2 linked regions of the Homo sapiens genome follow. The protein of the gene in region 1 interacts with the protein of each later gene in a pairwise test. Each region holds a gene or a part of one and is shown on either strand. Other genes may lie near its edges. The genes, in order: FAF2 and UBAC2.

Region 1 (16,204 bases):
ATCGAGTAGGAATGATGGACTGTACGATCCAAAGGCATTCTAAAGAGCATAGGGTGTAAAAGACTTTCAAAGACAAGGCTAGCGCCGAAGACTCCTGTGCGTGCTCCTGCATGTGCGTGCTCCTGAGCACATTACACTGTACGACTGCTGACATGGTCAAGGGTGGTCTACCCTCAGGATCATAGCAGAGAGGGTACACAGGAGGTGCTCATCTCACTCATCTCTGTATCTCTAGCACTGAGGACATTGCCTGGCATACAGTAGGTGCTCAGTTTTTGTTGAGTGTGGTGGGAACAGCCAGCGAGGAGACTGACTATGATAAAAAGCAGATGTGGGAAAATGAAAGCAGGAAGCAAGGGTGAGCATTTTTCTTTCTCCAGATAGATTCAGGAATTCTGGAGGCTGCATAATAGAACCCCCTTTTGCCTATTGCCACAGCATTCCCATAGTTTTCCCTATTCCTGTAGTGTTAATTCTATGTATTTCTCTGGCAAACTAGAGATATACCAAACACCCACAGAACTCTAATTTTTCCTCCCCTGAATGGTGAGGTCTTGAGTCAAAGGTCTACATGGCTGAGGTTGAATGAGATGTGCTACCCTGAGTCTATGGTCTATGTCCTTATTCAATTCTGTGAGAGATCAAAGAAGATGTAGGCTTTGCCTTCAAGGGGCTTTCAGTCTGGTAGCAGAGATTAGACACGAACACAAATGATATAGGAAAGAATATAAAATTGCTATCAATTTTTAAAAGCTATGGAAGAACAAAGGGAAAGATTAGTATTCTAGATGATGAGATAGGGCAGGACAGGGCACAACAATCAGGGATAGCTGTAAGTGGGGCGTGACATAATCTAGTTGAAGGACTGGCAAGATTCCAATTAGCAAAAATGTGAGGAAGGCATTCCACGTGGATGGACCGGCAAAAGCAAAGGCACAGAGGTAGGCAAGTACAGACTATGTTCAGGGAATGAGTCAGCTGGAACTGAGGGTATGGTAAAATAAGTTATGCAGAAAAGACCTCAAAAGAAGGGCAGCATTAGATCAAAGAGGGGCCAGCTAAAAGGTTTGGTCTTTTTTATTACCCACCCCTATAAGCAGTGAAGAGCTAATTAAGGTTTTTGAGTACAAGAAGGACATGATCAGTGCTGGGCTGTGCTCTCCTTTGAGGATAGAATCATTTCGGTAAGTTGGCATCTATATGGTTTATGGCACTGACCTGGCTGTACGTTCCCTGGTAGAAGACAGGGTGTGCCCTCCCATATTTCTCTTCAAAAGAGTGCATAAATGAAACAATGTCCCCAACGGGGTCAGTGACCCGGCTGCGAGGGTCAGGCCGTATAAAACGAAGAGCAAACCTGGGGAGGAAGGAATAAATATCACATGAATCCAGCTTACTACAGTGCATATCGAGTGGGCCAATTTGTACAGATTCCTGTAACAGAGCCAGAGGCACGGCAACAAAGGGAGGTGAACAGTCTGTGAGTGGACCATCAAATCCGAGAGTAGAGTCTGGTTCAAAAGCCATAAAGCAGCAAGTGTTATTCTATTGCCTGTTCAGGAAGAATGCAAACTACTGGGATTATAAATTCCAACACTGGCCTACATAAATCCTGAGTATTTTTTGTAGAACAATTTAGGGCTAGAAGGGTTTGGAAGGGAAGACACAGTATCCAAAAAGATCATGTGTCAGGCTATGCACCCAGACTCTCTAGAATGGCACCGTCTAAGTACTGTAGCCACTAGTCAAATGTGGCTATTCTGAATTTAAATCTATTACATACAATTAAAATTCAGTTCCTTAGTAATGCTAGCCACATTTCAAGTGCTCAACAGCCACGTGTTTAATGGCTTTCATACTGAACAGCGGAGATACAGAACGTTTCTATCATCACAGAGAGTTCTACTGGACAGTGCTCTAGAACAGAGGTCATTTTCTGGTTGTCCTACTTGCCCCTCCTTCTCCTTTCTGTTTTCCTGGGATTTTAAATATTGAGTTCACAACCCCAAACTATTCAACTTACGGATAGGAACTTCAAATCTGAAGTTGCGGTTATGACTTACTTGCTCTTCAAAGGGGCAAGTACCTTTTGCTTGATGATTTATGGTTGATGGCAACCATGGAGGAAGTTATAAAACTGCTCCACAGTACCCTGGCAGATGTGGAGTACTGGCAGCTCTTGTAAAGTGAAGAATACATACCTAATGGTACCACACATCTGTTTCTAAAGGGCCTACCCTATTTGTATAGTACCATTTATTTATCCTTTGGGTTTCCAGAGAAGGCAACAGGACAGAGGATAATGTGTTACCTAACATTAAACAAGCTGGTTGGATGATACAGCTGCATTAAAATTAGTAATACATGCCGTGCATATTTTCCCTAGAAAAGCAAACAATATTCATTTACTTAAAACGTTTTCAGCACAGACAAGGTGATTAAACTGTGATACTTTTCCTTAACAAAAAGTGAGTCAATTCATTATCCCAACAAATTCCCCCTGTGTATACAATTCTACTTGGAATTTCTCCCGAGTAATCAAACCAAATTCATTGACAACAACGTTCCAGAGCGAATTAAAAGCACAAAATGTAGTAAGTTGTATACGTGGGGGAATGGTTAGAAATTCATCAGAAGACTGATGTTTTAACTACTTTCTTTGAAATTAAGCATTTTAGAATTCTCTCTTAAAGCCTTTATTTTTTTTTCCTCATTACACAATATTCCCACGATCTACACAATTTAGGACAATCAGCTTTTTTGATTTTTTAGAAAAAAACAGAGATGTCAACTTAGTTTTCATTATGATTTTAAAGATTTTTACATGTTCATTCTTAAATAAAATGGGGATGGAAAGAGTACTAAGCAATTAGTGATCATGAAGAATGTTGCTAAACCAAGAAAGCCATTAAGTAGACAGCCTCATAAAACACCAAGGGTCCAATATAAAAGGTACTATCTGACCCTTGTACTTATGCAGCTGCTGGACCCACAACTTCAGCCTCTGCTCCCTAGAGGCAGGGTAAAGGCTGTCCCATATTTGAAGGGAAGTACAGGGAACCTGTACTTCCAGGGAAGGCCCAGACTACATATCCCAGCTCCATCTGCTGGCCTGGATGCCCTTGAACATTTAAGTTCCCCATAAAGCCTAGACATGGCTCTGGACCAGATAACCCAAGCCTGACATGCTAAGAAGTTGTGCCCCACTCATTTTCTTTTCTTTTTCTTTTTTTTTTTTTTGAGACGGAGTCCCACTCTCTCACCCAGGCTGGAGTGCAGTGGTGCGATCTAGGCTCACTGCAAGCTCCGCCTCCCGGGTTCACGCCATTCTCCTGCCTCAGCCTCCTGAGTAGTTGGGACTACAGGCACCAGCCACCGCGCCCGGCTAATTTTTTGTATTTTTAGTAGAGACAGGGTTTCACCGTATTAGCCAGGATGGTCTTGATCTCCTGACGTTGTGATCCGCCCACCTCAGCCTCCCAAAGTGCTGGGATTACAGGCGTGAGCCACAGAGCCCGGCCAGTTGAGCCCCACTCATTTTCTGGCCTTGGACCCTCTGTAGCTTCCAATGATGAGCTCTTTTAATGGTACATGAAGGAAGCTAGAAGAAAGGTGAAGGTATGAAGCAAGTGGGTATATACATAAAAGGGTTCCAGTGTTTGCAACCTAGGGGCTGCCAGAGCAAAGTGAAAAGGTACCGAAGCTGCCAGGCATGGTGGCTCATGCCAGCAATCCCAGCACTTCGGGAGGCCAAGGCAGGTGGATCACTTGAGGCCGGGAGCTCAAGATCAGCCTGGCCAACAAAATGAGACTCCATCTCTACTGTCTCTACTAAAAATACAAAAATTAGCCAGGCGTGGTGGCGCATGCTTGTAATCCCAGCTATCTGGGAGGCTGAGGTATGAGAATCGCTTGAACCCAGGAGGTGAAGGTTGCAGTGAGTCGAGATGGTGGCACTGCACTCTAGCCTGGGTGACAGCGACAGAGCAAGACTCTGTTTCAAAAAAAGAAAGAAAAAGAAAGAAAAGGTGTAACAGGAGTGTCTAGGGAGGTCCAACTATTGTGGGAGGAATCAAGGGCAAACTGGGTAATCTCAGAGCAAGAGAATTTGTTGGGATTGTGAGTAGTCAGGTGGAGGAGAAGTAGTTGAGGAAGAAAGTTCTAAGGAGTGTGAAGCTAGGAGATGATAGTGGTTAGAAAGGAAAGGGTGTGGACATCAACTAGGAAGTGTAGAGGTGACAAATATGGTGGGGGGGGGAGGGGGAGACAAATAAATATAGTCAGACTGGTTTTTGCAAACAAAAGGTAAGACTAATTTAAAAACAATTCCATTTCACAATGCCTGCCAATGCTTCAACAATTTAAAATACTTGTATGTTGTATTAAAAGACAGTTCGGGAAGTGTATTCCATCTCATGACAAATTGGTAAGTCAACATTGATAGAGCATAAAGCTTATTTTGGCCTAAATTTCAGCTCCAAAGTCTTACTATTCTACTAATACATAAATCCAAAGGTACATACCTAAATATATCAAGTATCGTGTAATAGGTAAACCGGAATGGAAGCATTATCAAGTAATAACCCCATCCAAGCAGCCCCTGAAAGTCCAAAAACAAAGTTAGAGACAATTCTCTCAATCCCTAATATTTTATCAAATGGCTAGGTCAGATTTTCTCACTCTTTTTGGTCCTTCCATGTGATTTGTTCCTCTAAAGTACAGTTCCTTCTTCCTGGCCACCTCATCCTTCTAAGTGCCACCATCTTTGGTCTTATTTCATCTTACTATCATTTTTTTTTGCAGAATTTTTGTATTAAATCTGCTTTAAGGTCCAGAGCTGTATCTCCTGCCTGTAATCCCAGCACTTTGGGAGGCTGAGTGGGGCAGATCACCTGAGGTCAGGAGTTTGAGACCAGCCTGGCCAACACGGTGAAATCCCATCTCTACTAAAAATACAAAAATTAGCCAGGCATGGTGGCATGCACCTGTAGTCCCAGCTACTCAGGGAGGCTGAGGCAGGAAAATTGCTTAAACCCAGGAGGCGGAGGTTGCAGTGAGCTGAGATCGCGCCACTGAACTCCAGCCTGGGGGCAGAGCAAGATTCTGTCTCAAAAAAACAAACAAACAAATAAAAACCAAAACTGCCTTAATACTTATTTTTGGCAGCTACTTATAGACTTGTCAAATTCAATTGCAAATTAATGTTCCCCAAATGATACACACTCATTCTTTCCTTTTTAGATTTACACATCAAAATATGGTATACAGAAATAAGCCAGGCTTGGTGGCTCACGCCTGTAATCCCAACACTTTGGGAGGCTGAGGCGGATGGATCACCTGGGGTCAGGAGTTCGAGACCAGCCTGGTCAACATGGTAAAACCCTGTCTCTACTAAAAATACAAAAATTAGCTGGGTGTGGTGGCTCACACTTGTACTCCCAGCAATTTGGGAAGCCAAGGCAGGCAGATCACTTGAGGTCAGGAGTTTGAGACCAGCCTGGCCAACATGGTGAAACCCTGTCTCTACTAAAAATACAAAAATTAGCCAGACGCGGTGGTGGGCGCCTGTAATCCCAGCTACTCAGGAGGCTGAGGCAGGAGAATCGCTTGAACCTGGGAAGCTGAGGTTGCAGTGAGCTGAGATCACACCACTGCACTCCAGCCTGGGCAACAGAGGGAGATTCTGTCCCAAAACAAAACAAACAAACATAAAAACCTAAAATAATGTATATAGAAATAGCAAGAAAGATAATCACTATTACTAACCTTGGACATTGGTATATAAACATTAAATAATTATATTAACCACAATGACAAATCCCCATATAGCTGCTTATCTTAGTAATAATGCTAATTATTATTGCTGTTATTAATTATTAAAACTAGCATACATCCAGGGCTCTATAGTTTATAAAGCATTTCATAGTTGTCACATTGTGTTAACCTGAGACACTTTCTGTGTCTGTGGCCAGGAAGCTCTGGAGCCCCATGGCTGACATGGGAATCTGCTACTGTACTTCAGAAAACCACAGAGCACTACTTAGAAACATGTTTTAAAACATCAAGTAGGCCAGGCACAGTGCCTCAAGCCTGTAATTCCAGCACTTTGGGAGGCTGAGGTGGGCAGATAACTTGAGCTCAGGAGTTCAAGACCAGCCTGGGCAACATAGCAAGACCCCATCTCTACAAAAAATACAAAAATTAACCAGGATGGTGGCGCACACCTGTAGTCCCAGCTACTTAGGAGGCTGAGGTGGAGGACTGCTTGAGCCCGGGAGGTCTAGGCTGCAGCGAGCCAAGATCATGCCACTGCACTCCAGGCTGGGCGACAGAGTGAGACCCTGTCTCAAACAGAACAAAACACAACAAAAATCAAGTACTCCACAAAAAGGCTTGATGATGGAGTAAATTCTAACTGCTGCAATGTTAAAGGGAGTGTTTTCTTAGGATTCTAAATGCAAGTATAAAAGTATAAGAGGTGAGTATAACCCCAGGGGTAAGAAAAAGAAAGTCCAAGCAGTTCTTTAGAATTCATTATCAGTGTACACATCTGACTTCCTTCAATAGACTGTGAGAAATTGAATTTGAAATGGGAAGACTGGCTCTTTATTCATGTCTGGATCCCTAGTAGCAAGATACCAGGTTATTGGAGTACTCTTAAATGTCTGTCAAATTTAAGTGAACCACCTCCTTGCTACTAGCCCTTCAAGGCTAATTTCAAAGACGTGGCCAAAGCTCCTACAAAGATTCCATATACTTCCTCAAAACTGGTTTAAGATTAAGTAAACTGAAGCAACAAAGAACTTGAGTAAACAAATTGTAACTTAAGAGGCAGAAAACACTCTCCAAATAACTGGCAAAGAAAAGAAAAAAAAAATGAGTAGTTTCTGTAACAATTCCTTGAGGAATCAAGGCAAAATAATACACCCAACGGGCCAAGTCTAACTAACAGGTTTACATTCTAAATATTTGTTTTGCTCCTGTCACAGGGAGATCAATATAACCAAGTGGATATACTTATAAATAAAAAAGGGGGAAATCCCAGCTATGAAATAACTTGCCCTTGGTTGAGGTCTTGAGACAACATAGCTGTAGATCCTGTGGTCAGCTGTATTAACCTGCAGGGGTCGTGATGGAGGTGGGTTGAAAACACTAGGTACGCCCTCTTGCTCATTCAATCTGTCCTGTACAGCAGCCTGAGAAGGAAAACGGAGTGGCAAGAGTTTCAGCGATGCTCAAATCAACCAACAACAAGAGGTGAGGCAACTATTGCGTGGTATTCCAAAACAGGATGGTCATGAATACACCAAAAGGTCACTGAGGAGTGCACCTTCATGGGCCTGTTAACCGGCTGTACTTGGAGGCAACTGGAGTTGTCACTCCAGAATGCATCCATGGTAGAGGAGACGAGGAAACTTGTCTGGAAGCTACATTTATGCAGCAAGCGTACTGCCTGGATTCAGATGGCATGTATTATTTAGGGTGGCTGGGATATAAAGTGCTTCACTGTACAATCCCAAGAAAAGCCATCCTCAGAGAATACAATGTAGGCAGTACCCCTGGAGTTATGCAGTGAAGCAGTCCTGATGAGTGGCATCTGATGAAGGGGCTTGCAGCAGAGAAACTTCGGTCTGATCCAAGCTCCATCTCTCTGAAAAGTTGCTCAATGTATGAGCCTCAGGTCAGGCGCGGTGGCTCAAACCTGTAATCCTAACACTTTGGGAGGCTGAGGTGAGAGGATTGCTTGAGCCCAGAGACCAGAAATTCGAGACCAGCCAGGGCAATGAAACGAGACCCTGTCTCTAAAAATAAAAAATAAAGAAGAAAAAAACATATGAGCCTCAGTTTCCTCATGTGCAAAATAAAGGAACAATATTTCTGAGTTAATCTGAAAATTTAATGAGTTGGCCACACATAAAGATCCTAATACAACTCCTGTCAGACTACTGATATTCAGTTTAAAAAATTCATTCCCTCCTTAACTCTGTCCTTGAAATAGATATTTGTCTCAATGTAGTAAAAAAAAGTTGACCTTACCCAAAGAGATGTCTGATCTTTCCCTTTTGGGAGGTAATCTATGTCAGACCTGATAAGCATGTCTTTGTTACTAGATTTTAGGTTGCAGCTGCAACACCCAGTAGTCTTAGGGTGAAAGCCGGCCATGCCAGAAAGACCAACCATGTGGTTTAGGGTGGGGAACTTTGGACAACTTGGTATCAGTTGACTTGAAGACTGAGTTCAACCATGTGGGCAGCCAAACAAATCAATCGTGCCTATGTAATGATGCCCTAATAAATTCTCTGGAAGCACTGAAGCTTCCCTGGTTGGCAATACAGTAGTCCCTTCTTATCCACAGGGATATGTTCCAAGACCTCTAGTAGATTCCTGAAACCATGTATAGTACCGAACTTGAATGCTGTCATTGGAAGCTATTTCTCTTCATGTCTTCCACTCAAAAAATGCCTTTTCCATCTTAACTATGCACTTATCATGCACTGTGGCTGCAATTTTTGCAGAAGTGTGACCATAAAACTACTATGAATTTCTTTTTCTTTCTTCACAATTTCACAAACACAAGCTAGATCTTAGCAACTTCAGCATATAATTTTTTTATTTCCTCATTAAGTCAGGAACTTTAACCTTTTTTTTTTTTTTTCTTGAGATGGAGTCTTATTCTGTTGCCCAGGCTGGAGTGCAGTGGCATGATCTCAGCTCACTGCAACCTCCGCGCCCCCAGGTTCAAGCGATTCTCCTGCCTCAGCCTCCCGAGTAGCTGGGATTACAGGCTCCTGCCACTGTGCCCAGCTAATTTTTGTATTTTTAGTAGAGACGGGGTTTCACCATCTTGGCCAGGCTGGTCTTGAACTCCTCACCTCATGATCTACCTGCCTCGGCCTCCCAAAGTGCTGGGATTACAGGCATGAGCCACTGCTGGCCAGGAACTTTAACCTTTTCACTTAAAGGACACATTTCCTGGCTTCTCTCTAGCATAGCTGAGTTGCCAGCATCACTACTCCTGTGCTTTGGGGCCAATATTAAGTAAAATAGGGGAACCTGAACAAAAGTACTGTAATGGCACAACAGTTGATCTGATAACGGCTACTAACTGACTAACAGGTGGGTCTTGTATACAGTATGGAGACGCTGGACAAATGGATAATTCACGTTCCGGGTAAGGTAGAATGGGACAGAGTGAGATTTCATCATGTTTCTCAGAACAGCATGCATTTTAAAACTTATGAATTGTTTATTTCTGGAATCTTCCACTTAATATTTTCAAACCACAGTTGCCTACTAGTAACTGAAACCACAGAATGTGAAACTGTGGGTGGAGGGGGCTACTATACTTCATGCATATTGTTATACATCTATGCCAAGAAGGTAATGTGTCCCGACTCTGCAGGAGCGTAGTATGCAAGCTTCATGTCCAAAATCCTTTTAGACTCTGCCCCCTTTTTTTCTTTTTTTTTCTTTTTTTGAGACGGAGTCTAGCTCTGTCACCAGGCTGGAGTGCAGTGGTACAATCTCGGCTCACTGCAACTTCCCCCTCCCAGGTTCAAGCAATTCTCCCACCTCATCCTCCAAGTAACTGGGATTACAGGCACGCACCGCCACACACAGCTAATTTTTGTATTTTTAGTAGCGATGGGGTTTCACGATGTTGGCCAGAATGGTCTTAAATTCCCGACCTCGTGATCCACCCACCTTGGCCTCCGAAAGGGCTGGGATTACAGGCGTGAGCCACCACACCCGGCCAACTCTGCCCTATTTGTCTCTTCCTTTAGCTGCTTTTAATCTATATGTTCCCTATAATAAACTATAACCATGACTATAACAACTTTCAGTGAGTTCTAGTGAATTAGCAAATCTGAAGACGGTTTTGCGACACTCTGAAACTGCAGGTGGTTTCAGAAGTGAAGGTGGTCTTTAGGAGGGCAGTGTGCCCTCTGAACTCAATTACTAGCTTCAAACTTTGAAATTTGGCTAATATCAGGTAGTCCCCTAGTTTTACAATTCAACGAGGAAAGAATAATCTTTCAACAAATGATGCTGGGATAATTGGATATCCACATGCAAAAGAAAGTGGATTAACCCCTAGATCACACTATACATAAAAATTAACTACAAATACATCAAATACATCAAAAACCTAAATGTAAAAGCTGAAATTATAAAACTCTTAAAACAAGGGTATAAATCTTCCCAACCTCAGATTAAGCAAAAGTATCTTAGATACGACAACAAAAGCACACGCGACAAAAGAAAAAAGTAGATAAATTGGACTTCATCAAAACGAAAAACTTTTCTGCATCAAATTACACTATCATGAATGCGGCAAGATAGCATGTACCTGTAGTCTGAGGTGTCAGGGAGGCTGAGGCAGGAAGGCTTCTTGAGCCCAGGACTTCAAGGTTACAGTGAGCTATGATCAGGCCACTGCACTCCAGCCTGGGCAACAAACCAAGACTCCATCTCTCAAAAAAAATAAAATAAATAAAAATAAATAAAAAAAAGAAAACAGGCCGGGCACAGTGGCTCACACCTGTAATCCCAGCACTTTGGGAGGCCGAGGCGGGCGGATCACAAGGTCAAGAGACCAAGACCATCCTGGCCAACACTACTAAAAATACAAACAACAACAACAACAACAACAAAACCACAAACCACTATCAAGAGAGTAAAAAGATAACTCGCAGAAAGGGAGAAAACATTTGCAAATTAAATATCAGATAAGCACCAGGCATGGTGGCTCACGTCTGGAATCCCAACACTTTGGGAAGACAAGCTGGGAGAATCACTGGAGCCCAGGAGTTTAAGACCAGCCTGGTCAATACAGCGAGACCCCATCTGTACAAAAAATAAAAAAATAAAATATTAGCTGGATGTGGTGGTGTGTGCTTGTAGTCCTAGCTACTCAGGAGGCTGAAGTGAAAGGATCACTTGAGTCTGGGAGGTCAAGGCTGCAGTTAGCCATAATAGTACCACTGTACTCCAGCCTGGGCAACAGAGAGAAATCCTGTCTCAAAAAAACATAAACTGGCCAGACGCAGTGCTTACGCCTGTAATTCCAGGAATTTGGGAGGCCAAGGCGGGTGGATCACTTGAGGCCAGGAGTTCAACACCAGCCTGGCCAACATGGAGAAACCTCGCCTCTACTAAAAATACAAAAATTAGCCGGGCATGGGACACCTGTAGTCCCAGCTACTCAGGAGGCTGAGGCAGGAAAATTATTTGAACCTGGGACGTGGAGGTTGCAGTGAGCCGTGATCACGCCTCTGCACTCTAGCCTGTGCCACAGAGTGAAACTTCATCTCAAAAAAAAAAAAAAACTTTCACAGCTCAACATGAAAAAGATAACCAAATTTAAGAACTGGCAAAGGACTTGAATAGACATTTTTGCAAAGAAGATATGCAAATGTTCAATAAGAATATGAAAAAATATTCAACATCATTTTAGCCACTAGGGAAATGCAAATCAAAACCACCCTAGATCACTAGGGTGAGTATGATCTAGAAGACAAATATTAACAAGTGTTGGTGAGGGTGTGGAGAAATTCAGACCTTCCTACAACGCTGTTGGGAATTTAAAATGGTATAACCACTTTGAAAACAGTCTGGGAGCTCTTCAAAAGGTTAAACATAGTGTCACCATATGACTCAGCAAAGTCCATTCCTAGGTATAGACCCAAAGGAAATGAAAACACATATTCACACAAGAGCTTGAACGCTAGGGCCCGGTGTGGTAGCGTGGGCCTGTAGTCCCATCTACTTGAAGCTGAGGTCAGAGGAATGCTTGAGCCCAGGAGTTCAACTGCAGTGAGCTATGATCAAACCTGCACTCCAGCTTGGGTGACACAGTAAGACCCTGTCTCTCTCTCTCCCTTTTTTTTTTTGAGACAGAGTCTCACTCTGTCCCCCAGGCTGGAGTGCAGTGGCATGTTCTCAGCTCACTGCAAGCTCTGCCTCCCGAGTTCACGTCATTCTCCTGCCTCAGCCTCCCGAGTAGCTGGGACTACAGGCGCCCACCACCACACCTGGCTAATTTTTTATATTTTTAGTAGAGACAGGGTTTCATTGTGTTAGCCAGGATGATCTCGTTCTCCTGACCTCGTGATCTGCCTGCCTTGGCCTCCCAAAGTGCTGGGATTACAGGCGTGAGCCACCGCGCCCGGCCCAACCCTGTCTCTTAGAAAGAAAAAAACAAGGCCAGGTGTGGTGGCTCATGCCTGTAATCCTAGCACCTTGGGAGGCGGAGGTGGGTGGATCACAAGGTCAGGAGATCAAGACCAGCCTGGCCAATATGGTGAAACCTCGTCTCTACTAAAAATACAAAAAATTAGCCGGGCGTGGTGGTGCACACCTATAATCCCAGCTACTCAGGAGACTGAGGCAGGAGAATTGCTTGAACCCGGGAGGCGGAGGTTGCAGTGAGCCAAGATCACACCACTGCACTCCAGCCTGGGCAACAAGAGCAAAACTCCATCTCAAAAAAATAAAAATAAATAAAGATAAAAAAACAAAAAGCAAAACTCTCCAGATCCTCTGTTCCATTTCCTATGCTCATCTCATTTGTCATTTATTTATTTTTTTAAATTATACTTTAAGTTCTGGGATACATGTACGGAATGTGCAGGTTTGTTACATAGGTATACACATGCCATGGTGGTTTGCTGCACCCATCAACCCGTCATCTACATTAGGTATTTCTCCTAATGCTATCCCTCCCCTAGCCCCCCAGCCCCCCACCCCCCGAGAGGCCCCGTGTGTGATGTTCCCCTCCGGTCATTTATTACAAACTGAAATTCTCTAGAATTAAGTTCCATAAGAGTAGGGACTTGGCTGGATGTGGTGGCTCACACATGTAATCCCAGTACTTTGGGAAGCTGAGGCAGGAGGATTGCTTGAGCCCAGGAATTCAAGACCAGCTTGGGCAACACAGCAAGACCTCGTCTCCACAAAAAAATTAAAAATCAGCTGGGCATGGTGTTACATGTTTGTAGTCCCAGCTATTTGGGAGGCTAGGGCAGGAAAATTGCTTGAGCCCAGAAGTCAAAGGCTGTAGTGAGGTATGCTTGTGCCAATGCATTCCAGCCCAGGTGACAGAGCAAGACCCCGTCTTAAAAAAATTAAAAAAGAGTAAGGACTTACTTTTGTTCACTAATATAATGCCAGAGCCTAGAGTTTAATTGCTCAAAAATGTGTTGAATAACGAAATCATATTAGGAATACATTTTATTAAAAAAAAAAACTGGAAAAAAAAAGGGAACACGTTTTTAGGAATCCAGCACCCTTTTAAAATAGCATATAATAATTAAAACAGTAATTTGGGATCAAGAGGGTGTTTTGACAAAATTCAACATCCACTCAGTATAAACTATTAATATACTAAGAATGGAAGGGAAAAACCAACAGATATTTATTTCCATGTTATATGCTGGGAATACAGCAGTTAAAACAAAACAAAAAAATCTCTGCTCTTAGGGAGCTTACATCCTTGGAGATCTATCTCAAAGTAACAACTAACATCACACTTGCTAATAAAAAATCAGAGGCATGGCCGGGCGCGGTGGCTCACGCCTGTAATCCCAGCACTTTGGAAGGCTGAGCGGGGCGGATCATCTGAGGTCAGGAGTTCAAGACCAGCCTAGGCAACATGGTGAAACCCCGTCTCTACTAAAAATACAAATTAGCCGGGTGCAGTGGTGTCTGCCTGTAATCCCAGCTACTCAGGGGGCTGAGGTAGGAGAATCGCTTGAACTTGGGAGGCAGAGGTTGCAGTGAGCTGAGAGCACGCCACTGCACTCTAGCCTGGGAGACGGAGCGAGACTTTGTCTCAAAAAAAAAAAATCAGAGGCATTATAGTGAGGACAAAATGCTATTACCATTATCAACTGACAGTGTTTTAAAGTTCTTGCTAATTCAATGGTCAAGGAGAAGAGTTGCAGAGAACATGACTACCTAGACAACCCCAAAGAATAAACTATAAAATATGTAAGAAGAAGGTTCACATCAAGACATCTGGTTAAAAACTAAATATACAAAAACCAATTGTTTTCCCAACAAGATACTAACAAACAGTAGGGGGTGGGGCACTATATTGAGGGATTTAGTCACAAATTTTTCTATGATTTTATAAACTTTCTCACATTCTTTACCTTCCTGCACTTTTATTTTTAGAGTCATAATTCTGAAAAAAATCTACTGAAAAGATTCCTGCTATGGAAAAACATACGGTTTTGACTCTTAATCAGACCAGAGAAAAAGAAATAAGCTCAGAACACATCCTATTATACCTCTATGTTCCAGTTATGCTGTTCCAAGGTATGGCGACACTGATCCATAGATTCGATGCCAGTGAGATCCTGAAAAGAAGGATGAAAACAAGTTACTTAGAGAAAAACCAACAGTATACGTGTGAGTATTTTTACGCCATATACTGCTAGGAAAATACACTAAAAAATGTTAAAAGTGAGTGTTAAAGTATGGTAAAACTTCACCGATTCAGAATTTATACAGTCAGCTGACTGTTCTAGATGCGTAAAGAACTAAAAAAATGATAATTCCTTTTAAAACTTCAAGGCTTTCAATTAAGAGGAGTACTGACTAAGATCAATATTCTCCTCTCAAATTCAAGTTTAAAAAATTAAAGATTTTTCAACCTGTGGGCTAAGCAAAATATTATTTAATGCTAAACAGCTATTCTGTTGATAGTACAGGTTGAGCATCCCAAATCTGAAACCTAAAATGCTCCAACATTTTTTGAAACATTTTGAGTGCTGACATGTCTCAAAGGAAATGCATAGTGGAACATTTCAGATTTGAGATGCTCATTCAGTAAAACGTAAATATTCCAAATTCTCAAAACAATCCAAATCTGAAACACTTGTGGTTCCAAGCATTTTAGATAAGGAATACTCAACCTCTACATAATGATGTAATGCACCTTTCCTGTAAAACGTCATGCCTTTCATTAACTTATTTCATTTTATATACTGGTATTAACCTAGTTTATAATATGAACTGTGTAAAACCTAACATACCGACCCCCCTACCCCCCGCCACTTTTTTTTCGAGACAGGGTCTTGCTCTGTCATCCAGTTTGGAGTGCAATAGCGCAATGACTGCTCACTGCAGTCTCAACTTCCCAGACTGAAGCGATCCTCCCGCCTCAGCCTCCTGAGTAGCTGGCACTGCAGGTGTGCACCACCACACCCAGCTAAATTTTGGATGTTTTTTGTAAAGACGGGATCTCTCTATATTCCCCAGGCTGGTCTCCAACTCCTGGGCTCAAGCAATCCTCTTGCCTTGGCCTCCCAAAGTGCTGGGATTATAGGTGTGAGCCACTGCAGTTACAGTATTTTCTCACTATTTCCGTTCAGATGTCCAATATTCAGCAAATCTAACAGTTCATGTATACATCTCATGCCCAGAATTTCCACAGAGCTAAACTCTAGCATTCCTTCAAAGTCTAATATAAAAGCCAAAACCATCCATCTAATCCATCCATCCTTTCATTTGACAAATGTGTGCTACATGCCTATTCTGTACAGCACTAACTTACTATGTTGGAGGGACAGAAAATGAATAAGATGTAGTCTCTATCCTCAAGAAACTCCTCTAAACAACCAGTAAGCTTCAGGGCAAAGAGACTGATCTCAACCTGACAAGAATGTAGTAGTATGGACTGATGAGTCTGAAAACTGAAGTTCTTGCCTAATTCTGCACCCCATGGCCACGGACAGGCACATTTTAACTCTGAATTTAGTTTCCTTTATGTGCAATGTGAAGGGTTTAATGTGGAATGCATTTCTTTTCCAGAGCTTAAAAAAATGAAACAAAATTCAAAAACTGAAATTCGGATTTTTAGGTATACAAGTTTTCATTTTTTATAATTACACATGTAGTACAAAAACTTGCAATAAAAAATGTTAATGTTTAAAATGCTGAAATAGAAAAGTTCCTTTAAGAACCACTGGCTTTGACAGTTCTGAGTCTGGATTTTAGGTCCTGACCATTACAGGACTCTTCACATTTGCCTATTCCCTTCTGGCTTCTAATAGGACCCCCTTAACTTTCAGTGTCCTACATTACAACCCACTAAAGGACTGGGATGTCCAGGGTTCCTCCTTCTCGCTGTGGATTCTCTTTAAGAATTGGACTCTAGGCCAGGCATGGTGGCTCACGCCTGTAATCCCAGCACTTT
Region 2 (16,204 bases), on another chromosome or scaffold:
TTGAGGAGCGCTTGTAATCTCAAAGTATCCCTCCACAAGTTACTTACTAATTATAAAGGAAAACCGTAATTCTACAGAAGAGAAATTGGACACCACCTTAACCAGGTTATCAAAATTAACATCACCAATTATGGAACAAAGAATTATTATGTTCATATCCTGAAAAGGACCTATCAGTTATGTCCTTGTAACATATGCAGTTACAATCAACATGCATAACTTTGATCGTAAGGGAAAATAAGATAAACTTAATTTGAGGGACATTCTGTAAAATACCTGGTCTATGTTCTTCAAAAATACGATGTTCCAGATTAAAGGAGACTTGGGAGTCATGCTGCCCAAGTGGAAAATGTGATCCTGGACTGGATTTTGTACTGGAGAAAAAATGTCTGATGAAAGGCCATTTTAGGATCAATTGATGAAATTGGACTATGGATTGGATATTGGTATTATATGAATTTTACATTTCCAGGACTTGGTACATACCGACCGTGGTTAGGAAAGAGAATATTCTTGTTCTTAGAAAATACACACTGAAGTATGAAGGAAAACGGCACCATGATGTGTGCAACCTGCTCTCAAATGGCTTAGGAATAATACCTGTGCATGTCAGTACATAGTGTGTGATTGTGTGTATGTGTGACAGAGACAGAGAGAGAAAGCAGCTATGGCCAAATAACAATTGGTGAATCTGGTTAAGGAGGAATCAAGAGTTCCAGGTACTATTCTAGAAACTTTTCTAAGTTTGAAATTATTTCAAACTACAACCTTTTCAAAATCTATAAAAGAAAGTTAAGAGTGTTGCCATCATAATACTTTGAAGTTTCCCTCTGCCTGTTGTTTTTCCCTTTCAGCAAACAAAACAAATTGAGATCAGCATTTCACAGCTGACCACACCATCCACGCCATCGCCTCCCCATTCCCTGTCCCCAGAGTGAACAAATGCCACGCACCTGCCTCTGTAGCAAAACTTTGTCCTCATTTTTCCCAAAACTCAAAAGGTGCCCCTGGGCAGGGATCTCATAGCCACCCATGGGTAAGGCTGTGACAGGTGTTTTCAAGAGAAACCACTGTCACGTGCCCATTGACTTGATCCAGCCCCTCCCGCTTGCCACTTCTCCACTCAGACTGATGGTTTCAGCAGCTCTTCAGGATTAACAGGTGGAGTATGGAGCCACAGTTTTCCTCTTCTACCTCCACTAGAGAATTTCTAGACAAAGGTTATCCCCATGGATAAGAAAAGCCCAATAACCTGCCATGTGTAAAATCTTCCTATAACATGTTTAAAAAATAAGATACTGCTGTCAAGTTCAGCTGAAAAGAAATATCAAAATTCCGTTATGTTACTGTTTACTTGATACAGCAGTGAGTCACATCCCTCATGGGGCAGCCGTTAAGACGAGGTATTTAAAGGTGATATATTTCTCAGTTTGGGCACTTCAGGAAAAAAAAAGTGTCAAAAAGGGAGTGAAAGGAGTATGTGTGTGATTGAAGTCTTCAGGGTTGTTTTTTTTTTTGTTTAATGAGTCATTTTTCCTTGATCATCCCAGAATGACAACAGCGAGGTTACTTCTTGTCAACATCAGTTTAAAACAGTACTTAATTTCTTCCTCGCTCCGTGTTACGAGAAGTTGTAAAAACATGAGGGGTTGTTTTTAACATACACTTTCTTATACATTGATTTTCTAAATCTTGTTTTTGGTGTTTCTTGATTATCCTGCAAATAGCTGTTATAAACCATTGTTGCCTTAAAGATGCAAGGTTCTTACTGGCATTATTCATTCTGCAGGCTCTTGGTGTTCTTTGCAGTGGGTACTATAGAGATTATAAAAGATAAAAAAGATACTGTTGTTGCCCTCAAGATGCTTACAAAAAAGTTTATAAATTTATATTGTATAATCTCTTGGCCAGTTTGTTTAACCACTGTCTAAAATATTTGTTAATAACATGTTAAGATAACTTGAATTAACAAAAGCTTTTTTTGCTTACTTTTTCAATTAAATGTTTGTATTTTCTTCATTTAAATATCAGAGCCACGTAATTTTAATGCATTAAGAAACTTAGTAATTTTTTAAGCCAAGAAAAATAGAAATTATTATTTGAGTTTTTTCTGCTGTAAACAGATACTTTAGGAATTTAGTGAGAGTTCAAGAAAACCTGGTAGACATGAAATGTATGCCATGTACTTTGAAAGCAGAATATTCTAAGAAGAATGTGCATCCTTTAATAAATCCAATAGTAGTTTGATAGCCATAGAAATCTTTTGCCACCTTTTCTACTTTTGCTATTTTTGCTGTTATTAAGATTCAAGATTTTTAGTTCTTCAGAATCCACTCCCGTTTTTTGGTGAGTAAACCCACGGCACCTCTGCCAATTCATCACCCCTCAGAGATGCCACCCCAGCCCCATTTAAGAATATCCCAAGAAGGAGGCTGCTGTGCAGGCAGGCGGTGGGAGGCTGCAGAGTGCCAAGCCACACAGTGCGCCCTGTGCTGCCTGGCCTGCTAGCTAGACAGTCAGGATGGCAACAGCGATCCCCGGAAACCACAAGGCGAGATGTCTGCTCATGCCTTCCCTGTGCAGACGTGCGGGGAGGAAGATCAGAAGAAAACCCCACAAGTTCCTATCAATTTCACAGAACTTTCCAAGTGCTCTTAGAGTTGAAAGATAATGTCTGGGGAAAGAGAAGTCTAAATCTGATGAAAGGACAAAGGTGGATAAAGTAGGCTGTGGGGGGAAAATGAAGGATGATGGACCAGCTAAGGGAGGCAAGGAGAAGGCCCCTAATGCCCCCCAAAGACCACTGCCTGTTCTGTTCAGGATCCCCAGCATCAAATCCATAGACCCTGGGATTGCTTTTGGAGATGGGTAGACAAGCTTGGTGAGCTGTGGAATCAGTGACCGTGAGAAGCAGCCTTAGGACACCAAGGTGGGGAAGCTGCTGGAGAAAGACAGGTGGCGTCACCGGCTCTGAGTCTAAAGGGAAAATGGGTGGCAAGAAGGTCCTGCCAGGGTTGCCCAGAGAAAGGTAGACAAGAAAGAGGAGGAGGAGGAAGAAGAAGATAAATAGAAACTGTTTGTCAACAACAACAGCAAAAATGCCAAGCCAAAGACCACTTGATAAAACTCCTTCGAGTAATCAAATACGCTCAATGTCTGCTATCTTAGAAATAAGTGTATCCAGGCCGGGCGCGGTGGCCCACACCTGTGATCCCAGCACTTTGGGAGGCTGAGGCGGACGGATCACGAGGTCAGGAGATCGAGACCATCCCGGCTAGCATGGTGAAACCCTGTCCCTACTAAAAAATAAAAAAATAAAAATTAGCCGGGCATGGTGACGGGCGCCTGTAGTCCCACCTACTTGGGAGGCTGAGGACAGGAGAATGGTGTGAACCCGAGAGGCAGAGCTTGCAGTGAGCTGAGATCACGCCACTGCACTCCAGCCTGGGTGACAGAGCAAGACTCTGTCTCAAAATAATAATAATAAGTATATCCATTATTCCATCTCTCTCTTTTTTATTGTTTTTTTTTTTTTTTTTAAACAGGTATCTTTATACTACTATGACCCATACTCAAAATTAACAAATGATTAAATTTTTCTCATATTTGCTTCTGATTTTTTTAAAACCAAAGGGGGAAAAACTCATCAAGTGTATCTCTTCTGACCCTCCCAAAGCTTAGAAAATGACTGTTAGGTAAAATCAGACAAGAAAGTTAAATAAGACTAGACCAAAGCTGGGATTTAACAAAAGGAAGATGAGCAAATTTCAGCTTCCTCTCTTCGATTCATGTCTTTCTTTCCTTTAGCTGACAGTGACCAGCTGTCTGCTCTGCACCGGGGCTAAGCGCTGTGCTGAATTCTGAAAACACTAAGATGGATAAGGCGGAATGTCCTGCCCTGAGGAGCTGTGAGCCCAGGGCAGGGAAACAGGTGGACAAAGAGCTTGTGGAAGTGTTCGGGTGCTGCTGAGGCCAAGAAAGGCCGTCAGGGCAGTGGTGTTGCAGAGGAGGGGCCTGAAGACAAGTACATGGGAGGTGGGGAGCCACGGATGGGTGGGCTGGAGTAGAGGGGACTGGAGGGCCGGGGCACTTCTTGGGATTCTAGAAGCTGGACAGAAAGGAGGCCAGACAGGCTCGCCAAGGGTCTGATGTGTGGCATGTGGTTATACTCTAGACACCAAGGAACCATGCGGGATCTTACACAAGAAACACCATCATTGGGTTTCCCAAGAGGATGGACTGGACACAGAGGAGGGGGCAGGTTATAATCTTATAATTTTCTCTATCCAGGCCCAGGAAACATGGTGCAACTGCCCAGACAAGAGATGTTACCATTTGGTGCATTAATATTAATAATACATTTATAATGCATGTCAAACGACAGAATTACAGCAAATTTAGTGACAGATCTATTTGGCTTTTATTTGCAACTTATGAATTAGTGCAGCCTCCATTCTACAAAACAGAATGTGAGCTCCCGCCAGGCAGTACTGGAACAGTGCATTTTGTAAGAAGGAAACAGAGCAATAGAAAAATAACTGATAGGTTAACATTGAGTTACTTCAGGTTGCTTTTTTTTTAAGGGTTAAAGCAGAGGGGAGTTCCTTATTATGCTGACTTGTGTAGTCTGGGATCTCCTATTTTTAGAAAAAGCAGGTCTTCTTGTTTTGGGATCTGTCTGCTTCCTTAAAGTTTCAATTTGATTGTGTGGCATTTAGCATGAGTGACTCCATTTAGTTTGGTCTTCTGGTTTGTTGGAGCCCAAAACAATGGCGTCCCATAATTTTGGTCAATTCACATGACACGTCGTGTGGATTCTGTTTATGTCTCTGAGATATCCATTAGCCCAAGTAGAGAGAATGGCTTTAAACCCACAAGGTGCTTTCACTCTTAGCTGATAAATAGCAAAATGTATTTAGTATTAGAGAATCTAAATCTTAATGAGGCTGTCTCCTCTCTTCTCATCTCAGGAATCCTTACCACTGTCTCCAGAAAACCCACCGAAACTCCTAAAATGCTCACCTTCTGAAAGCAGGGCTCTAATATTTATTGGTTTTGAGACACATCTCGTGCTTCTGCTCTGAGTAGCCAAGCATGGCAGCACATTGGGTATTGGGTTAGCCTCCCATGGCGTCTGGTCTCCCTGTGGACAGCGAGCTTCCTGAGGGCTGGGGCCATGTCTGCCTTGTTTGCTACCCTATGAAAAGCCTGATACACACAGGTGCCCCAGCATCGGTCGGAGAAGGGTTGAACACGAAGGTGTGGCCAGTAAACTTCCCTTTCAGAACTCTTGTTTTCACATAAAAAATGTGCTAGAGAGTGGTATTATGCCAGGTTTTTCCATTGCTTGCTCTAGTAGATTGGAAATACGTTTTCTAACAAGATCCCAAAGTTAGATGTGTTACAATGAAATACTAGATGGTACTCAAATAGTAACCAACTTTTGTGGGGTGTCTCATTCTGCTGGGTGCTCTGAGAGATGTACACAAAGGAGCTCAGCCAGCCTTAACTAAAGACCTGCTCCATACAAGACCCTGACGAGGCTCTAGACACAGTTGGTCTCAGAGCAGCCCAGAACGCTGGCAGGGTCTGTAATAACCAGAAACCTGAGTTCAACCAAGAGATGTGAAAGGAGGGGGGATCTGCAGTTCTCCCAAGGAAGAGAGTGGTCAGACAGGGAGAGGGGGGTGGGGGCTGCACTGCCTTGCAAGGGTCTCGGCCATGCGTCAGCATGGGGGTGGGCAGCTGGTGCCAACAGGTAACCGGTGCCAGTTGCTATGACAGCAGTGGGCGAGGCAGGCCCAGCACATCTGGGCTCCCCCAACAGGGTGTGCATGCTACCCTGCACCCAGTGTGAGCTCAGGATCGGGTGGGGGCCGTCTTCAGGTGGGCATCGCTTTCTGCAAGCGTCAGAATATGGGAAGTAAAAACCCAAAAAAAACATTTGTTTTTGACGCACTTAGCTAAAAGGGAAGTTAAAGAAAACCACACTCTAGTTTGAATAAACCAAAAGGAGTCTTTCACTGAGGGGAGTTGCTAGAAATCTCATTGGAATGAATGTCCCATTTTACTTATGTCAAAGAGGAGTTGAATTGCAAGTAAAATACCAAAGTGGGATTTCATTTATTTTCTTTTCTCTTTTCCTTTTTCCCTTTTTTTTTTTTTTTTTTTTGAGACATGGTCTTGCTCTGTATCCCAAGCTGGAGTGCAGTGGTGCTATCATGGCTCACCGCAACCTCGACCTCCTGGGTTCAAGCCATCCTCCCAACTCTGCCTCCTGAGTAACTGGGACTACAGGCACATGCCACCAAGCCCAGCTAATTTTTTTTTTTTTTTTTTTTGGTAGAGACAAGGGTTGCCCAGGCTGGCATTTTCTTAAATGAGAATTATCTTGAGGTAGTAGGCACACACATCCCAATCATAGATGTTTAAAAATAAAAAATAAGGAAAGAGAAACTGGTACAGATTTATTTCCATCTCTAGGGTGTTTTCCTCATTCAGTGGGTTCTCTGAAAAGCACATTATTAGGGAATGTATTCCATCTTGCTCTCCTTTGGAACATTGTCAGGTGACAGTGACAGTGCTCTTGTGGCAACGCCTATTTCTGTCATGCTCCCCTGCCTTGGTCAGCCAGCCATGTGGAAGTGTCACACCAGGGCTGGTGAAGGGCTGCTGACGCCTGTGGTTCAGAAGCTCGTGACGAAAGGCAACTGATGGAGTCACACCTTGCTCCACTGGGGCACCCTGGACACCTCCAAGAGGGTCTTCATCCCTGTGGGGGCTCTGGTGGGGCACCCTGGACACCTCCAGAGTGGGTCTTCATCCCCGTGAGGGCGGAGCTGGAGTTTGCCATTGCCACAGCACCAGCTGCACCTTGGTGTCCTCTGAGTAGCCTTATCTCTGCTCCTCACCTCTGGAAGTCAGGTTTCCTGTTACGGAAAGCAGGCTCTGGATGTTACATTTGGGGAATGTTAGTGTCTAGAAATAAGAAATAAGTAGATGTGGAAGACAGGAAAGCAAAGCATGCTGGAGGCGAACCCAACTAGAGCTGGCTTCTCAATGAAGTTAGAGGAAGGAATCATTTCGATTTGGGGGCTAGAAACCAAGCTGCACTCTAATCTGATATTTTGTGGTGAGGATTTTTAGGCAGAAACTTCTTGTGATGCCTGAGCAGGAGGAAGGTACTCGCTGTGCTCTGAGATGGAGAGGGAATGTTGAAAGAACACCTTTTTAGAAAATTTCTTTGAGACATTTTTAAAATTTTCCAGACCAATGAATGACTGCAAGCCCATGAAGCCAACACTGACGAAGTTGCAGTATGCAGCGCCGTGCCTCGCCTCGCCTCGCCTCACCATTGCCTCCACTCACGCCAGAACAAGTGTCTATCCTAGCACAGTCTTTTCCAGAGTCTCAGTGTCCTACCAGCATTCTCATTTTGTCCTCCACATGTTTATTGGTCACTTTTGATCTTCACATTCAGCCTTCTCTAACTGGTGCTGGGCACCGGGTGTGTCAGGCTCTGTGTTGGGGGGAAGCAAGCCAGGCCTGGTGCCAGCCCTCAAGGGAGCTCACCGTCTATGAGGGAGACCAGATCCATGCAAGGCCCTAACCCAGTACCCAACTCATGCAAGTACCTAGTGCCAGTCCTTAGAGCAGAGGAGACCTGTAAACATTCATTCCTGTACTTTAACAACTTGACATCAGGAGATTTTACATTGAAACTTTCTCTTCCTGTGGATGTTAGATCGGATCAGGTGCTCATGGTGAGTTCTGATGCTTCTCATCCCAGTAGCTGGACTACAGAGACAGGAAGCAGCCTGCAGAGAAAATGAAGTAGTCCAGGGTTTCAGTGTGAGTTAATGTGTGTTGTGGCTAAAATGTGGTGCTTTCGATAGGGAGAGAGATGGGCTGACCATCTATAATACCATTATTTATATAGTCATCAGAGTTGTGTATTTGCTAAACTTTATAAATACATAAAGTGTATTTTAGAACAACACAGTCTTTTTGTTAGAATGTTATGCTCACCATTTAAAAAGATTGTTCCTGTCTTTCTGACTTCTTTAGGGCCCACCACACACCTGGCCCCGCTGCCCTCCATAGGAGAATAGTGGTCCTGAGAGGTCATGTTTATTGAGCGCTGGTCATGTGCCCGTCACTGTTCTGGGCTTCTCACATGCATCCCTCTCATCTCCCAAACTGCGAGGAAACAGAGAGTCAGAGCCTGGTCCCCTGCATGTGGTCACACGGGGCCAACTCCAAAGCTCGGGTCTCCCTGCCACCCTGCGCTGGAGTCAGACCTAAGACAGCATGCAGCTTCCCCTGCATTTTTATTTCACGGAAGCATGAACCTGGTTTTCTGTCCCTACAAGTTGAGTATCCCTTATCCAAAATGCATGCTGCTCTAGTCCTTCAGTAAGCCCATCACATATTTTCTCTGTGTCGTCTGTAGACACTTTTTCTGCAGCGTTAGCATCATCTCCATCATCACTGTTGTCACAGTCACCTTGACTCAGAACCATCTCAGCTATTTCACCATGGGTCAGTTAATGAACAGCTGGAGCCCCCTTATCGATATTAAAAACTTCAATATCTGGCTGGGCTCAGTGGCTCATGCCTGTAATTCCAGCAAGTTGGGAGGCCGAGGTGGGCAGATCACTTGAGGTCAGGAGTTCGAGACCAGCCTGGCCAACATAGTGAAACCCCATCTCTACTAAAAACACAAAAATTAGCCAGGCATGGTGGCACATGCCTGTAGTCCCAGCTACTTGGGAGGCTGAGGCAGGAGAATGGCTTGAACCCAGGAGGTGGAGGTTGCAGTGAGCCGAGATCACATCACTGCACTCCAACCTGGGTGACTGAGCAAGACTCTGTCTCAAAAATAAAATAAAAAATAAAAACTTCAATATCCACTTCTTCTGGCTTACTGACAGACTCGAAGGTATATTTTTTACCTGTTAGGAGGTCAGGCATCATTTTATCCTCATTTGACATGTGGAATCCTTCAAAGTCACCACCTTGTTCGTCATCATCACTGAACATAGCACAGGCCAGAGGTTGTGTCAGGCTTGCATAGCTGTGTTCTCAGTCACTGTGTTCCATGCATTGGCAACAGCATGTGTGGCATCCTTCACGCTAAACGCCTGTTGAAAATCTTCCATACCCATTCATTTGTTGCTAGCATGTTGTTCAAGAAGGTACTTTTATATTTATCCTTCATTGATCTAAGAATACCTTGGCCACATGGCTGAATTAATGGAGTCACATTTGGGGAAAAGTACATGGCATAAACATGATTTTTGATGAGATGTCAGCTGGAGGATGAACAGAAAAGTTGTCAAGGTATAACAAAATATTTCAGTCATCATCCAGCCCAGCTTCCCTGCAGTGAGCACAAGCCACAGGTCCAAAATGTTTGTGAGACCAATCAGAAAAGATATCCCTAGTTAAACATGCCTTTTTGTTAGCATAATAATGGTCTGGTAAGAAATTCGCTGCTTGAAAACAGCAAGGACACAAACTTTTGCCTGTCATGCAAGTTTACGCTTATGCATGCCTGCTGCATTAGCACATCCCAGCAAAGTTGTTCTGCCCTTGATGTCCTCAGTTCCTGGAGGGGCTGTCTCATTAGCTGTAGTTGTGTCTTTCTGGAGCAATAAAACCAAAACAGTGATGTTCCATCAGCATTATAGACTTGTTCTGGCATCAGATTTTTGTCAGCAATGACCTTGGCAAACTCACCAATGAATTTCTTTGCTGCTTCATGATGCTTTGTCACCACATTAAAAAATTTGGTTTCATGTTTTTTCTTAAATTTCTGCAGCCAACATGTTGAATATTCATAGTTCCTTTTCATTTTCAGTTCCTCATCCTGATAGATCCTTGCTTGTTTCCTGACCCACATAGCATTAAGTGGCAGGTGTTCACTGCAACACCAAGGGATCCATCCTCGGTACATGATCAGGATCTTCATTTTTAGCTTTATGCAGTGTTTCTCTATTTTTCATTAATTTCTGTTTATCACTTTTAGCACAGAACTTCAACAGTTTATCCTTCTGTTTCTTCAGATCCTATATGGTGGTCACTCCAACACCATACTCTCCTGTAAGACGTTTCACACTTACACTGCTCTCCACTTTCTCCAACAGCTTGACTTTCTGTGCTATAGATAAACATAAATCTTTTTCTTATCACTGTTACCCAGAGGGTATCTGCACACCTTTTAGATATTTTAACAACATTTTTATAACACAGAGCAGAAAGTAAGCAAAAAAGCACAGTGAGTGACGCACGTGGGTTTTGGCCCCATGCAGGTCATTGTGGGGAACCTGCCCACTGGCATGTGCTTGCGTGGGGGAGTCGGGGCATGTGCAGAAAAGGCATGTCACAGCTGAAGGAGGGTGAGAGGGTCTCTTTTCCCTTGGAGACACTGAATAAACTACATGTTGTGGCCTGCATTTTGACTGCAGCCCATCACATGAGGTCAGGTGTGGAACTTGCCATTTGTACTGCCATGTTGGTACTCAAAAAGTTTCAAATTCTGGAGCATTTTCGATTTTGAATTTTCAGATTAGGAATGCTTAACGTGTGTTTTGCTTACCTGACTGCACGTCTGCGCAGGCCTCAATTTCGTCTTTCTGTAATTTGAGCACAGGAGTTGATGCTTCACATGCCGAGTAAGCTTTCCCAGGAGAGACCGTAATGAGATGTGTGGGGACTGGGCGTGCTGGGCTTCTCTGAGCAGAGGAATAGTGAGAGCCACAGCAGTAATTGTTAGTGTCCACCAAAGAGCCCTACAGACAACTGTTCTCTGTGCTGCTAGTTTTTGCTCCAGTTCTTACTGTCTATATGGTGAACCTCTGAAACTACATAAAGAAAGGACAGCAGGGGCCACTTGGCTAACTTGCACGGCTGTGAGCACTGCACTGCACCCCTCCACTGGGGAGTATTGGGTAAGCACCCATCGGAACACCTATCCCCTGACCCTTCTCGTCCTTGCTGGCTGGTTGTCATCGCATACCCAAGCCCAAGCATGCAGTTTCAGTTTGCCATGGATGTTTAGTTTTGGACACTATGGGAAACCTTCAGGTGCCCTTTCTTAGTGTAATTGTTTATTCTTTTTAAAGAACTGTGCTAACATTATTGCTACTTAGCAATAGTTTTTAATCTGGTGAAAATAACAGGTCAGTGGGCAGTGAAAGTTCTCCTGTCACACTTGTCTTCTCACCCATAAAAATCACTTAAAGCTCTGAAGCCAGCTTTGGCTAAAGGGGCATGATCTGCCCCGCAGAGGATGAAGAGCGAGCCCGCTGCAAGCTGTGACAGCAGACGCTCTCTTCTGCCAAGACCTGTGAAAAGCCAGTCTTAGTTGTCAAAACCAGCACCGCGGCACATGTCGTTCATGTCTGAGAGAATGAACTCAGAAGGAAGTCTCGTGTACATAGAAAGCTTTCGTTCTTACTCTAGGATGTCACCTACGTGACTTACAACCCAGCCCAGCCATCCCAGACCTAAGGGGTTCTTCCCTCTCCAGGGCAGGGCCTGCATGCAGTCCATGCTGCTGCCCTGTGTTGGTGACCTGTGTGTAGCCAGCCCATTATCAGCATCCTGTGGATTCCAAACCAAATGTATCATCAGTGGAGGGAGAGCTCAAGTGCCAGGTGGAGCTGTGGCCTAAAGTCACACTTCATCACTCCAGATTATGAATCGTCATTTGCCAGATCTCCAAATTGCTGAGTGTGGACAGCAAATGGATTCGTTTGTGCTGGCTGGGTGCAAAGAAGCAGCCAGTCCTCAGCTGCACTTGAAGTACTACAGGTAGTAGTAAAGGTAGCTTTTCCAAGCCGTTTAAATAAACGTCATTAAGAGTGGCCAAGTTGTTTGGGGGCCATGGCATCATGGTGGTGGATAGTAGGTGGAAGGAAGGCAGGCCAGCTCCCGTTTGGCCTGAGTTATCTCCACCAATGACAATGGTCCTTAACTGGAGGGAACATCATACAGGTTATTTCCACCCAAGATTGGAAAGACCACCTTGATCAGAGAGAGTTTTCCTTCCACATGACACATATCCAGCCTGAGTCCTCCAGCCCCTCTCCCTGCACAACCTGATGGAGGCTTGAGAAAGCACAGGGAGGAACACTTAGCTTGAAAATGTTCCTAAGGAAAAGGAAAGTGTGAATTCTGAGAACCAAGTGGCAGAATTGAAGTTTCACATCTGGCAAAAGCTTAAACAGATTATTATCAAATAGATGGTTTGTGAACGTTGAAAAGACAGCTGTGGTCTAGGACACCAAACCAATCCTGTTGGCAAGAGATCACCAAGACCTTTGACAACATCTCATCAGCTTATGAGAGATGTTGGTGACATGCAGAATGGATAATGATAGTGCAATGAAGTGGGTTTGAAACTGATTAAAAATGTTGATTAACCCCTTGAACACAGAGTTCTGGGCTCTTTGACCTGACGTGTTTGACATTTTCATCAATAATAACTTGAACAAAGTTGTAGAGGTTTACTAATCAAATTTAGGCATGATACAAGTTTGAGGGAGATGATTAACAGTAGATAACAAAATGAGAATTGAAAATAATTCATTTTGGTTGACTGGAAAATGATCAGATGGAATTTAACAGAGATATGTAGAGTCCTAGACTTAAAAGGTCAGGTAGGATTTGAGAGACCTGACTTGACAGCATTTTATGTGAAAATTCCTGAGTGTTTTCAGCAGGCCCAGCTTAACTGGCCACACCAGTGATGCAGCTCCTTACACAAGTGCATGCACAGGCACACACAACACATATGCACACTACTAATGCATTCCTCTGCTCTCATTGAAGCTAAGGGCCCAGACTGTTGGAGGGCAGTGGCCTCACTGCCCTGGTGAGACCACACCCGTGGTGTCACACTCAGTTCTGGGCGCGGTGTTCTGAGACGGTGTGCACAAATGGGAGGGGATGGGCTGAAAGGAACTGGATCCTGAAACACAGGAATGAGCAAAGGCAGCCACAGCCCTCATACTGGGAGTTCACAGTGGTGGGGAGAAGCTATCACCCCACAGACACAGCTGCAGGGAGCCCAGGACAGAAGGCAGTGGGGCAATGAGGACTTCGCTCTGGGGGCCTTCTAGTCTGGGAGACATGGAAAAAGGCAGGGGCCCCAAGACCCACCAGGGGAAGAGGAGTCATCAGGCTCAGGGCAGAGGGCAGAGACAGCAACACAGCAGAACAAGCCACGGTACCCACAGGCCTGGGTGGGGGCCGAGAAAAGCCAGTGGGTTGAGGGAGGAAGGAGAGGGCTGTCACACCCGCAAAGTGCTTTATGTAGGAAAAGAGAATAGGGTTGTTCTCGGTTACTTCAAAGGGCAAAATCAAGAGCTGTGGCATTGTGTGGATGGCAGCTTGTGAGGGGCAGAACACCAGGGTGGCAGCATTCTCAGCCACCTGGCAGTGAGGCCAGGGCACTCAGCCACAGCTGATGTGCATATGATGCATTAGTAGTGTGCATGTGTGTGTGTGTGCCTGTGCACGCTCTTGTGTAAGGAGCTGCATCACTGGTGTGGCCAGTTAAGCTGGGCCTGCTGAAAACACTCAGGAATTTTCACATAAAATGCTCTCGAGTCAGGTCTCTCAAATCCTGCCTGACCTTTTAAGTCTAGGACAGTACATATCTCTGTTAAATTCCATCTGATCATTTTCCAGCCAACCAAATGAATTCTTTTCAATTCTAGTTTTGTTAGCTACTGTTTTTTGTTTTTTGTTTTTTTTATCTACGACACTCTCTCCTCTGGTGGGAAAACAAACTAGAAGGTTTCTGCCTTTGCTCTACGCTGTCCACCAGCCCTGGGCAGCTGAGCATGAATCACCTGAGGGCGCCATAGTGTCCCAGGTGCTGGGCATCTTGCTGCTCCAGGACAGCCCTCCCCACCGCAAGGCATTTGGAAGACACCTGGCAGCCCTTCTTGGCTTCCTAGCCAGGGCTGTGCGTCAGTCCCCGTGCTAAGGGTTGAAAGCAACGTTCCGGGGAGGAGCACGCTCACTGCGTGCATTTGTAAGCCTAGTCCTCACCCACTGAGTGGTCCCATGACATGGGCGGCACCCCCCGTTTGGAAAAGCCCTGGCTGGACTCCAGCTTCTGAGCAGTGTCCACTGCGTGTCCCTGTTGGCCCTCAACTCTTCCCTAAGGCTTTTGGGGGAGGAGGGTCTGGGTGTCTGGGCCTGGGTGGTCACTGGGAGGTTCCCTCCCCCACCTGCCTCTCTACTCTCTGCACCTTCTTCCTCACCTTGCTGAGTCCTTAGGTTAATTTTGCTCAGAATATCCAGAGTTAGCCACTAGGCTGCGGGTGAAGTGGGATAGAGAGGAAGAACAGCAGGCTTTCTGGAGCCACATGCCCAGGCCCATGCCCGGCCCCTCCTCCAGCCACCCCATGCCATAGTCCCCATTCACACCCACTGAGTCCCCTGAGCAGAGGAAGGGGTGGTGATACTGGGCCCCTTCTCTTTCCACCATGTAGCACCAAGTAGCTCGCTCTCTTTCGGAAAGAAAAATTGGAAACTCTGACTAAGTCCTCAGGTGAACCCACAAAAGCCTCTTTAATGCGCAAGTGGCTAAAAAACTCAACATGTACAAGACTGTTGACTTTGATGAGGTGTTACTGCAAGTGCAGTTTATTTTAATATAAGTACAAAAAAAATGTATTCCTGTGGCAATCTGGGGCCATGAATATTTTTGTAATATATTCTTAATTGGGAAAAAAGGTTGCAAATAAGCTTTAGTAACATTGCCAATTTCAATACTGGAGACTGCCTGTAGAGAAAAGTACAGGAAATCTCCGTATTCACAGAATCAGGATTTGTGGTCAAAAACAATGCATGCTTGTTCCTCCCTGCTTCTGGTGGCTTTCACTGCCTCCTTCCTCAGTTGCTGCCCCAGGCTCAGCCCCACTTTGCTGCCTGCGTAAGCCCCAGGCTGCAAGTGGCACAGCTGTCAAAGTAGTCTGAGCACCCAAAGGCAGGCAGTTCTGTGGCAGTGACGCCAGGAGTGCGATGCCAGGGCCGAGCATGGCAGTGACGCCAGGAGTGTGATGCCAGGGCTGAGCGTGGCAGTGACGCCAGGAGTGTGATGCCAGGGCTGAGCGTGGCAGTGACGCCAGGAGTGTGATGCCAGGGCCGAGCGTGGCAGTGATGCCAGGAGTGCGATGCCAGGGCTGAGCATGGGTCACCACCATAGGGAATCAAACGACGCTGAGTCGTGTGTCCTCGCAGTGAGCCTGGGCAGCTCATGCCGACCTGCTTCCAAGGCCTGGTCCCAGTAGGCCACTTTACCCTCAGAAGCCCTGTGTCCTTGTCTGTAGAATGAGGGTTATGTGCGATCATGCATATATATTGGCTACACATAGTGAACATTGAAAAATTTGTACCTGGTATAACTTTTAAGTATCAGATTCCATATTGAAATGAAAATTGGTTTTTTTGTAAACAGTTTTGACCTTTGCCACAAGGCTCACATGAAGAACATTTGGGGCCCAGGGATAAGCGGCAATGTCAGCGCCCTCAGGTTTCTGCGTTTTCTCTGCCTGCAGGTCGCCCGGCTCATGGAGATGGGATTTTCCAGAGGTGATGCTTTGGAAGCCCTGAGAGCTTCAAACAATGACCTCAATGTCGCCACCAACTTCCTGCTGCAGCACTGATAGTCCCAGGCCAACACTGGGACCGGACCGGCAGCCGAGTGACAGTGCGTGGTCCCCACCATCAGATCAGCCCGGGGACCGAGCATCTCTGGTGCTGATGTTCTTGTGGGAAGAGGGAGGTTCCACCGCACCCCTGCCCTCAACCGCAAGACTGTTGCCGTTTTAGTGTGGAGATAAGTTTGCCATTACATTAGCATGTATTTTCTATCTATATTTTTTATTGGGCATTTTCCCTAGGTTGGAGAGTCAGCACTCGTTTTGAATGTGTTTAAAATGCATTAAAATGGAAGATTTCTGCAGGCAGTTGAATGGCACTCCAGATGGGGAATTGCTGTAACCCTCTTACTGTAACATGTCATCTCCTGCGTCGTGATGGGGAGAGGGTAATGTTACTTCACAAAGGACATGTCAGATCCTTCTTCATGGACTTTTTTAGTTACTGTTTTTTCTCTCAAACTTGTTTTCGAATCTCCTGGGAGTGAGGGAGAAACAGGGAGCTGAATCCTCCCCCAAGCTGT

The links.
Region 2: the proteins of FAF2 (region 1) and UBAC2 interact in binary tests that used the Homo sapiens proteins (3 or more experiments, as listed by UniProt).

The regions. Positions count from the first base shown.
Region 1 is NC_000005.10:176,477,347-176,493,550, reverse strand, and holds part of FAF2 (FAS-associated factor 2), read right to left. Parts: intron 14,364-16,204; coding exon 14,295-14,363; intron 7,197-14,294; coding exon 7,062-7,196; intron 4,601-7,061; coding exon 4,524-4,600; intron 1,358-4,523; coding exon 1,219-1,357; intron 1-1,218. UniProt on the Homo sapiens protein: Plays an important role in endoplasmic reticulum-associated degradation (ERAD) that mediates ubiquitin-dependent degradation of misfolded endoplasmic reticulum proteins.
Region 2 is NC_000013.11:99,369,650-99,385,853, forward strand, and holds part of UBAC2 (ubiquitin-associated domain-containing protein 2 isoform 1 precursor), read left to right. Parts: intron 1-15,578; coding exon 15,579-15,686; 3' UTR 15,687-16,204. UniProt on the Homo sapiens protein: Restricts trafficking of FAF2 from the endoplasmic reticulum to lipid droplets.